Linked DNA regions of Homo sapiens: region 1 is linked to region 2. Evidence: fine-mapped expression QTL. Tissue or cell type: putamen. Region 2 holds a variant in brackets; the other region holds the start of a gene. All regions are shown on one strand. Distances are from middle to middle.

Region 1 (4,181 bases), 360 kb after region 2:
TTCATGCAAATTTGCTGCACTGGCTATCACTGTTTATTAAACACCTTTCCACATAACATTTGCCAGAGTTGGATGAATTTGTTATTAATTATTTATTAATTATTCCTAACATTAAAAAAATTTAGATCCCATGTGTCACACTAGCTTCACATCCTCTTTGAGAAGAGATTGTCTCTGTGTTGGTATTGTTGTATCCCCAGAGGGTGCCTTTTCTTCAGCCACTTGGGGATACTCTGCAATATCTGCTGAGTGAAGTGAGCTGAAGCCAGCTGCATCCCGGCTCAGCAAGACTCCATTGGCTGCACTGGGGTCTTAAGCTAATGAAGTTGCTCCCTCCAGCTCTGCACTCATTGCTGCACAACAATATCTGTTGTTGGAGCCACAAGAAAGGGAGTTAATTGCAATTTACTGGTGGGTTATCTAGTCTATCTAACAAAAATGTCAAAGCCACCCACTACCCAGGATGCTCCTTAGCATTGTAGCATTATCCAATAAAAATCTCCACATTTTCATCTTTAAAAGTGCTTTCCATGTACTTAGTTATAAGCATAGTGTTTGCATTGAGTAGAATGGCCAAGTATAACCACATGTGCTTTATATCAGTGTGTAACAGTATATAGCATTTTAGCAGTTTACTTTTCCTTTCTATTTTATGAGCTTTTATCTGATATTATGATAAAATTGCATACTCCTAAGAGCATGACTCCACAGAAGCAGCCATACTTCCTGGATTTAGAGACTCGAGTGGGTTCCCCTGGCAACCTGAGCCACCTGAGGGCTTCTCAATGCTCTGTTCATTTTGTCTTCCCTTTATTTTGGCCATTAATTTGGTAAACAAGAAAGGTAAGAGTGCTCAAATGAAATAAAACTACTGAGGCCCTTATGAGGTCTCAGCAGGTCTGATGTGTTACTGAAGGAGATGTGATCCTTCAATGACAGTTTGCAATCAGACTTAAAAGAACTCTAAGACTTGATAATAATTTTCAAAATTATTTGAAAGGGTTGAAGGGATATGGTTGAACAAAGGGAAGATTTCCTTATGCTCTTCATATTACACTGCTCAAAAGAGTTGTTCATCTCCAGGCGGCAAGACGCTGGTGGTCAAATCCCACTTTGGGGTCATGGCGTCTTGAAAGAGACAGGAACCCCCTTCTGCCCTCCGCTGATGGAGGGAAGGGCTGTATCAGTCATTAGTGTGTCCAGGTGTGGCATGGACATTAGCTGTGGGATGCAGTGGGGACCTGTGTTTGTCAGCCTGAGGCAGTGAATCCACTGGGGAAATTGAGGTGCCTAAACCCCCAGTCTCCCCCAGGCCTGTCTCCAGTACCCTGTGGAGAAGGGGAACTTCCCCACTCCCTTTCAGAACCTTCACCTCAGGGGCTGAGCCCTTGCTCCCTTTGTGTCTTGCCGGTCCCTTTGCCTGAGAAGAGAATGTCTCTCACTCAGCAGGATCTGACAGCTACCCTTGGACTAGCAGAGTTTTGCAAAGAAATGATGGTGACAGTTTATTTACGGACGCTCAGATTCGCGGCCGTATAATGGAGGCAGCCCTACTGTGAGGGAGAAGTGAGGAGAACGTGATGGCTGCAGGGATTAATGTAAAACAGAGACACTGTCACCTCCCTGGAGCACCACTGAGGCCCGGGTAAGGAGAGTGTTTTGCCCTTCTCAGATACTATCAGCAATTCAGGTAATACCCGTAAGGTGCAGTTTGTCTGCAGCCTGTCATCCCAGTTAGAGCAGACGGAATGGAAGAGAACGCAAGGAAATATTCTATTTATGTGTCTTTTAAGTCATTATTTTATGAACTGGTCTTATTCTAACTGGATCATTTTGTTACTTTCTTTGGATGGGCCATTCTAATAAGCGTAGTTCCTGACTGCGAACTATGCAGATAAGAAGTTCTAGACACAATATGAAAATCCAGGTGCATACTTGCACTAAATAGGCATGCTCCTCCTTTTTACTAAATCTAAATGGCTCAGTCTCAGGTCTTGGGGAAGGCTGCATGGCCGGGGACCAGGCGGTGTGCCGCTCGGGCAGTTAGTGGGCCGGGCGAGCCTGCGGGGCTGGAGGGGACGCGGGGCTGGGAGGCTGGGGAGCTGGGGGCTGACTCCGGGCGGGCGGGGCGGGGCAGGGACCTGCCGGCCTGGGGCGGGCGCACCAGACGAGCTCTCCGCCCGCAGGCCCCCAGCGCCCAGCCGCGTCCCGGCTGCGTCCCGCCGGTCCCGCCCCGCCCCGCCCCGCAGAGCCGCCGCCAGTAGTGGGAGACGTGCGCTGAGAGGCGGGGGCTGCGCTCGGCGGAACAGCAGCCCTCGGGCGGAGAGCGGGGCCGGGGTCCGAGAGCAGGTGATGCCAAGAGCTGAGCGGGACTCGTGAGCGCGCGGTTCAGCACCTACCAGGGCGTCCCGTAAAAAACCTCGCCTTCGCCTGTCTCTGGGAACCATAGGTAAGCTTTGGGCTTTCGAGGTGCAGTTCTAGGTAGAGCTCCGTGCTGGGAGGTGGGAAGGGGGCTTGACCCTGGGGACTCAGGCAGTCTGGGGACAGTTCCACCAGGGGCCGGTGCCTAGAATTGGTGAGGGAGGCACCTCAGGGGCTGGGGGAGAAGGAGCGAGCGCTCTTCGCCCCTCTCTGGCACCCAGCGGCGCGCCTGCTGGCCGGAAAGGCAGCGAGAAGTCCGTTCTCCCTGTCCTGCCCCCGGCGACTTGCGGCCCGGGTGGGAGTCCGCAGGCTCCGGGTCCCCAGCGCCGCTGGCCAGGGCGCGGGCAAAGTTTGCCTCTCCGCGTCCAGCCGGTTCTTTCGCTCCCGCAGCGCCGCAGGTGCCGCCTGTCCTCGCCTTCCTGCTGCAATCGCCCCACCATGGACTCCCCGATCCAGATCTTCCGCGGGGAGCCGGGCCCTACCTGCGCCCCGAGCGCCTGCCTGCCCCCCAACAGCAGCGCCTGGTTTCCCGGCTGGGCCGAGCCCGACAGCAACGGCAGCGCCGGCTCGGAGGACGCGCAGCTGGAGCCCGCGCACATCTCCCCGGCCATCCCGGTCATCATCACGGCGGTCTACTCCGTAGTGTTCGTCGTGGGCTTGGTGGGCAACTCGCTGGTCATGTTCGTGATCATCCGGTGAGCGCGGGGACAGCGCAGCGCTGGGGGCTGGGCGGGGCAGGGAGTGAGGGTCAGGCCCCGCCACTGGAGCAGCAGTGGGGGCAGCCAGCCAGGTGGTGGGGACTCTGTTCCGTGAAGGATCCTGGAAATGCTACAGGGTGGCTTCCTAGAAGAGGTGAAGGATTTTCTGGGAGTTTTTGGTGGAGTGCTGAGAGGTTCACACAGGCGAATCCGAGCGGCCAGGGGCGTCTGGAAGATTTCAGAGTAACCCCCCGACCCCACCCTAGGGCCCAGTGTTTCTGCTGAAAACTCTATGCGCAGGGCAAGGTGCCAGGGTGCTGACAACAGGGTCAGGGGTTCCTGGTAAAGGAACTAATCCATTTGCCTGCGCCAGTTTGGAGCACTTTGTTATGCCCTTTGCAAATATTTCTTAAGATAAATTTCAAGCCCACCCAATGCACTGAAGATAATTCCGAATTTCCTGGGACTCCTCAGACTGGTGTTTTGGCTTATGAAACAAAACCTGATATATGCTCTAGCGTTGTTGATATGCATATATGAGCCTTTTTAGTATCAAATGGCATCCCATTTGTTAGGAATATCAGTAAATAATATTTATCCTCTAAAACATGGCCTGTGGAGATTTTCAAAAACTACTTCGCTGTTTTTTTCACCATGAGAAATTGAAGGTTTTATTTGTGTGTGTGTGTGTGTGTGTGTGTGTGTGTGGAAATTTCTTCAAGTCAACTTCCAATAATAAGTATCCCAATATCCACATATATGCTAATTTTTTGGTAAGCAAAGTGATTCTGACTTTAAGAAAGAAAAACAAGAAAAGGAAAACCTAACTTTGTTCTGCACTTTTCTTAAGATAGATGTGTTTCCTTTTCTGGGAGCACTAGAGCTTTGTCAACACACCTGTGAGAGGGAGTAGGAAGCTTGTGTTCCTTTGAGAAGTCTCTATGAAATAAGGGCGGGATGCAAGTCACCCTGGCTAGGGACTCTGAAACGATGAATAGCTGATTTTTTTTAAGCTTGATTTTAGTTTTGAAACAGGCCATTTATTTATTATGAACTTTAACA
Region 2 (4,181 bases):
ACAGGGACAATTTGACTTCCTCTTTTCCTAATTGAATACCCTTTATTTCCTTCGCCTGCCTAATTGCCCTGGCCAGAACTTCCAACACTATGTTGAATAGGAGTGGTGAGAGAGGGCATCCCTGTCTTGTGCCAGTTTTCAAAGGGAATGCTTCCAGTTTTTGCCCATTCAGTATGATATTGGCTGTGGGTTTGTCATAGATAGCTCTTATTATTTTGAAATACGTCCCATCAATAGCTAATTTATTGAGAGTTCTTAGGGTTGTTGAATTTTGTCAAAGGCCTTTTCTGCATCTATTGAGATAATCATGTGGTTTTTGTCTTTGGCTCTGTTTATATGCTGGATTACATTTATTGATTTGCATATATTGAACAAGCCTTGCATCCCAGGGATGAAGCCCACTTGATCATGGTGGATAAGCTTTTTGATGTGCTACTGGATTCGTTTTGCCAGTATTTTATTGAGGATTTTTGCATCGATGTTCATCAAGGATATTGGTCTAAAATTCTCTTTTTTGGTTGTGTCTCTGCCAGGCTTTGGTATCAGAACGATGCTGGCCTCATAAAATGAGTTAGGGAGGATTCCCTCTTTTTCTATTGATTGGAATAGTTTCAGAAGGAATGGTACCAGTTCCTCCTTGTACCTCTGGTAGAATTCGGCTGTGAATCCATCTGGTCCTGGACTCTTTTTGGTTGGTAAGCTATTGATTATTGCCACAATTTCAGATCCTGTTATTGGTCTATTCAGAGATTCAACTTCTTCCTGGTTTAGTCTTGGGAGAGTGTATGTGTCAAGGAATTTATCCATTTCTTCTAGATTTTCTAGTTTATTTGCGTAGAGGTGTTTGTAGTATTCTCTGATGGTAGTTTGTATTTCTGTGGGATCGGTGGTGATATCCCCTTTATCATTTTTTATTGCATCTATTTGATTCTTCTCTCTTTTCTTCTTTATTAGTCTCACTAGTGGTCTATTTATTTTGTTGATCCTTTCAAAAAACCAGCTCCTGGATTCATTAATTTTTTAAAGGGTTTTTTGTGTCTCTATTTCCTTCTGTTCTGCTCTGATTTTAGTTATTTCTTGCCTTCTGCTAGCTTTTGAATGTGTTTGCTCTTGCTTTTCTAGTTCTTTTAATTGTGATGTTAGGGTGTCAATTTTGGATCTTTCCTGCTTTCTCTTGTGGGCATTTAGTGGTATAAATTTCCCTCTACACACTGCTTTGAATGCAAACCAGAGATTCTGGTATGTTGTGTCTTTGTTCTCATTGGTTTCAAAAAACATCTTTATTTCTGCCTTCATTTCGTTATGTCCCCAGTAGTCATTCAGGAGCAGGTTGTTCAGTTTCCATGTAGTTGAGCAGTTTTGAGTGAGTTTCTTAATCCTGAGTTCTAGTTTGATTGCACTGTGGTCTGAGAGATAGTTTGTTATAATTTCTGTTCTTTTACATTTGGTGAGGAGAGCTTTACTTCCAAGTATGTAGTCAATTTTGGAATAGGTGTGGTGTGGTGCTGAAAAAAATGTATATTCTGTTGATTTGGGGTGGAGAGTTCTGTAGATGTCTATTAGGTCCACTTGGTGCAGAGCTGCGTTTAATTCCTGGGTATCCTTGTTGACTTTCTGTCTCGTTGATCTGTCTAATGTTGACAGTGGGGTGTTAAAGTCTCCCATTATTATTGTGTGGGAGTCTAAGTCTCTTTGTAGGTCACTCAGGACTTGCTTTATGAATCTGGGTGCTCCTGTAGTGGGTGCATATATATTTAGGATAGTTAGCTCTTCTTGTTGAATTGATCCCTTTACCATTATGTAATGGCCTTCTTTGTCTCTTTTGATCTTTATTGGTTTAAAGTCTGTTTTATCAGAGACTAGGATTGCAACCCCTGCCTTTTTTTGTTTTCCATTTGCTTGGTAGAACTTCCTCCATCCTTTTATTTTGAGCCCATGTGTGTCTCTGCACGTGAGATGGGTTTCCTGAATACAGCACACTGATGGGTCTTGACTCTTTATCCAATTTGCCAGTCTGTGTCTTTTAATTGGAGCATTTAGTCCATTTACATTTAAAGTTAATATTGTTATGTGTGAATTTGATCCTGTCATGATGATGTTAGCTGGTTA[T/G]TTTGCTCGTTAGTTGATGCAGTTTCTTCCTAGTCTCGATGGTCTTTACATTTTGGCATGATTTTGCAGTGGCTGGTACCGGTTGTTCCTTTCCATGTTTAGTGCTTCCTTCAGGAGCTCTTTTAGAGCAGGCCTGGTGGTGACAAAATCTCTCAGCATTTGCTTGTCTGTAAAGTATTTTATTTCTCCTTCACTTCTGAAGCTTAGTTTGGCTGGATATGAAATTCTGGGTTGAAAATTCTTTTCTTTAAGAATGTTGAACATTGGCCCCCACTCTCTTCTGGCTTGTAGGGTTTCTGCCAAGAGATCCACTGTTAGTCTGATGGGCTTCCTTTTGAGGGTAACCCGACCTTTCTCTCTGGCTGCCCTTAACATTTTTTCCTTCATTTCAACTTTGGTGAATCTGACAATTATGTGTCTTGGAGTTGCTCTTCTCGAGGAGTATCTTTGTGGTGTTCTCTGTATTTCCTGAATCTGAACGTTGGCCTGCCTTGCTAGATTGGGGAAGTTCTCCTGGATAATATCCTGCAGAGTGTTTTCCAACTTGGTTCCATTCTCCCCGTCATTTTCAGGTACACCAATCCGACGTAGATTTGGTCTTTTCACATAGTCCCATATTTCTTGGAGGCTTTGCTCATTTCTTTTGTATTCTTTTTTCTCTAAACTTCCCTTCTCGCTTCATTTCATTCATTTCATCTTCCATCACTGATACCCTTTCTTCCAGTTGATCGCATCGGCTCCTGAGGCTTCTGCATTCTTCACGTAGTTCTTGAGCCTTGGTTTTCAGCTCCATCAGCTCCTTTAAGCACTTCTCTGTATTGGTTATTCTAGTTATACATTCTTCTAAATTTTTTTCAAAGTTTTCTACTTCTTTGCCTTTGGTTTGAATGTCCTCCCGTAGCTCAGAGTAATTTGATCATCTGAAGCCTTCTTCTCTCAGCTCGTCAAAGTCGTTCTCTGTCCAGCTTTGTTCCATTGCTGGTGAGGAACTGCGTTCCTTTGGAGGAGGAGAGGCGCTCTGCATTTTAGTTTCCAGTTTTTCTGTTCTGTTTTTTCCCCATCTTTGTGGTTTTATCTACTTTTGGTCCCTGATGATGGTGATGTACAGATGGGTTTTTGGTGTGGATGTCCTTTCTGTTTGTTAGTTTTCCTTCTAACAGACAGGACCCTCAGCTGCAGGTCTGTTGGAGTACCCTGCCGTATGAGGTGTCAGTGTGCCCCTGCTGTGGGGGTGCCTCCCAGTTAGGCTGCTCGGGGGTCAGGGGTCAGGGACCCACTTGAGGAGGCAGTCTGCCCATTCTCAGATCTCCAGCTGCGTACTGGGAGAACCACTGCTCTCTTCAAAGCTGTCAGACAGGGACATTTAAGTCTGCAGAGGTTACTGCTGTCTTTTTGTTTGTCTGTGCCCTGCCCCCAGAGGTGGAGCCTAGAGAGGCAGGCAGGCCTCCTTGAGCTGTGGTGGGCTCCACCCAGTTCCAGCTTCCTGGCTGCTTTGTTTACCTAAGCAAGCCTGGGCAATGGCTGGTGCCCCTCCCCCAGTCTCGCTGCCGCCTTGCAGTTTGATCTCAGACTGCTGTGCTAGCAATCAGCGAGACTCCGTGGGCGTAGGACCCTCTGAGCCAGGTGCCGGATATAATCTCATGGTGTGCGGTTTTTTAAGCCCGTCGGAAAAGCGCAGTATTCGGGTGGGAGTGACCCGATTTTCCAGGTGCCATCCGTCACCCCTTTCTTTGACTAGGAAAGGGAACTCCCTGACCCCTTGCGCTTCCCGAGTGAGGCAATGCCTCGCCCTGCTTCACTGGTGCACGGTGCACGCACCCACTGACCTGCCAGAGGCTCTTCATACATCGCGAACCCGCAGACACTGCCAGGCTCCCTGGCTTTGCAGGGTTCACTCCCAGGGGCCTTGTCTTTTTAGGTGAACGTTTCCAGGGCTGCAGTTTAAAGACACAGGATCAAAGTCTCGCCTGCCTGAGCGGAGTGGCTTGGGCTCTCCCCAGGCCTCTGGGATTCTCTCTGGAGAGCAAAGCAGTGACCCACACATATCACTGGTGCAGGGTCTCTGCCTAAGG

Direction of the effects. Alleles are on the strand shown, and positions count from the first base shown. SD is a standard deviation of normalised expression in the study named.
For the expression in putamen of the gene that starts at base 2,260 in region 1, allele T in region 2 goes with a higher level than allele G (large effect, 0.79 SD a copy in GTEx).

What was found. PIP is the estimated chance that this variant, and not a neighbour inherited with it, causes the effect. A credible set is the group of variants that fine-mapping cannot tell apart.
Region 1: OPRK1 starts here. The variant in region 2 is the best candidate, but not a certain one, in a credible set for the expression of OPRK1 in putamen (GTEx, PIP 0.86).

Annotation. Positions count from the first base shown.
Region 1 is chr8:53,249,716-53,253,896 of GRCh38, reverse strand. It overlaps OPRK1 (opioid receptor kappa 1), which reads left to right and starts at 2,260. Exons shown (of 4, transcript NM_000912.5): 1 at 2,260-2,449; 2 at 2,812-3,116. The coding sequence starts at 2,860.
Region 2 is chr8:53,609,402-53,613,582 of GRCh38, reverse strand. No RefSeq gene overlaps it. Among named protein-coding and RNA genes, the nearest start is that of LINC02984, 88 kb to the right of the region's middle. RefSeq lists an enhancer at 3,385-4,049. The variant T/G (reference allele first, on the strand shown) is at 2,110.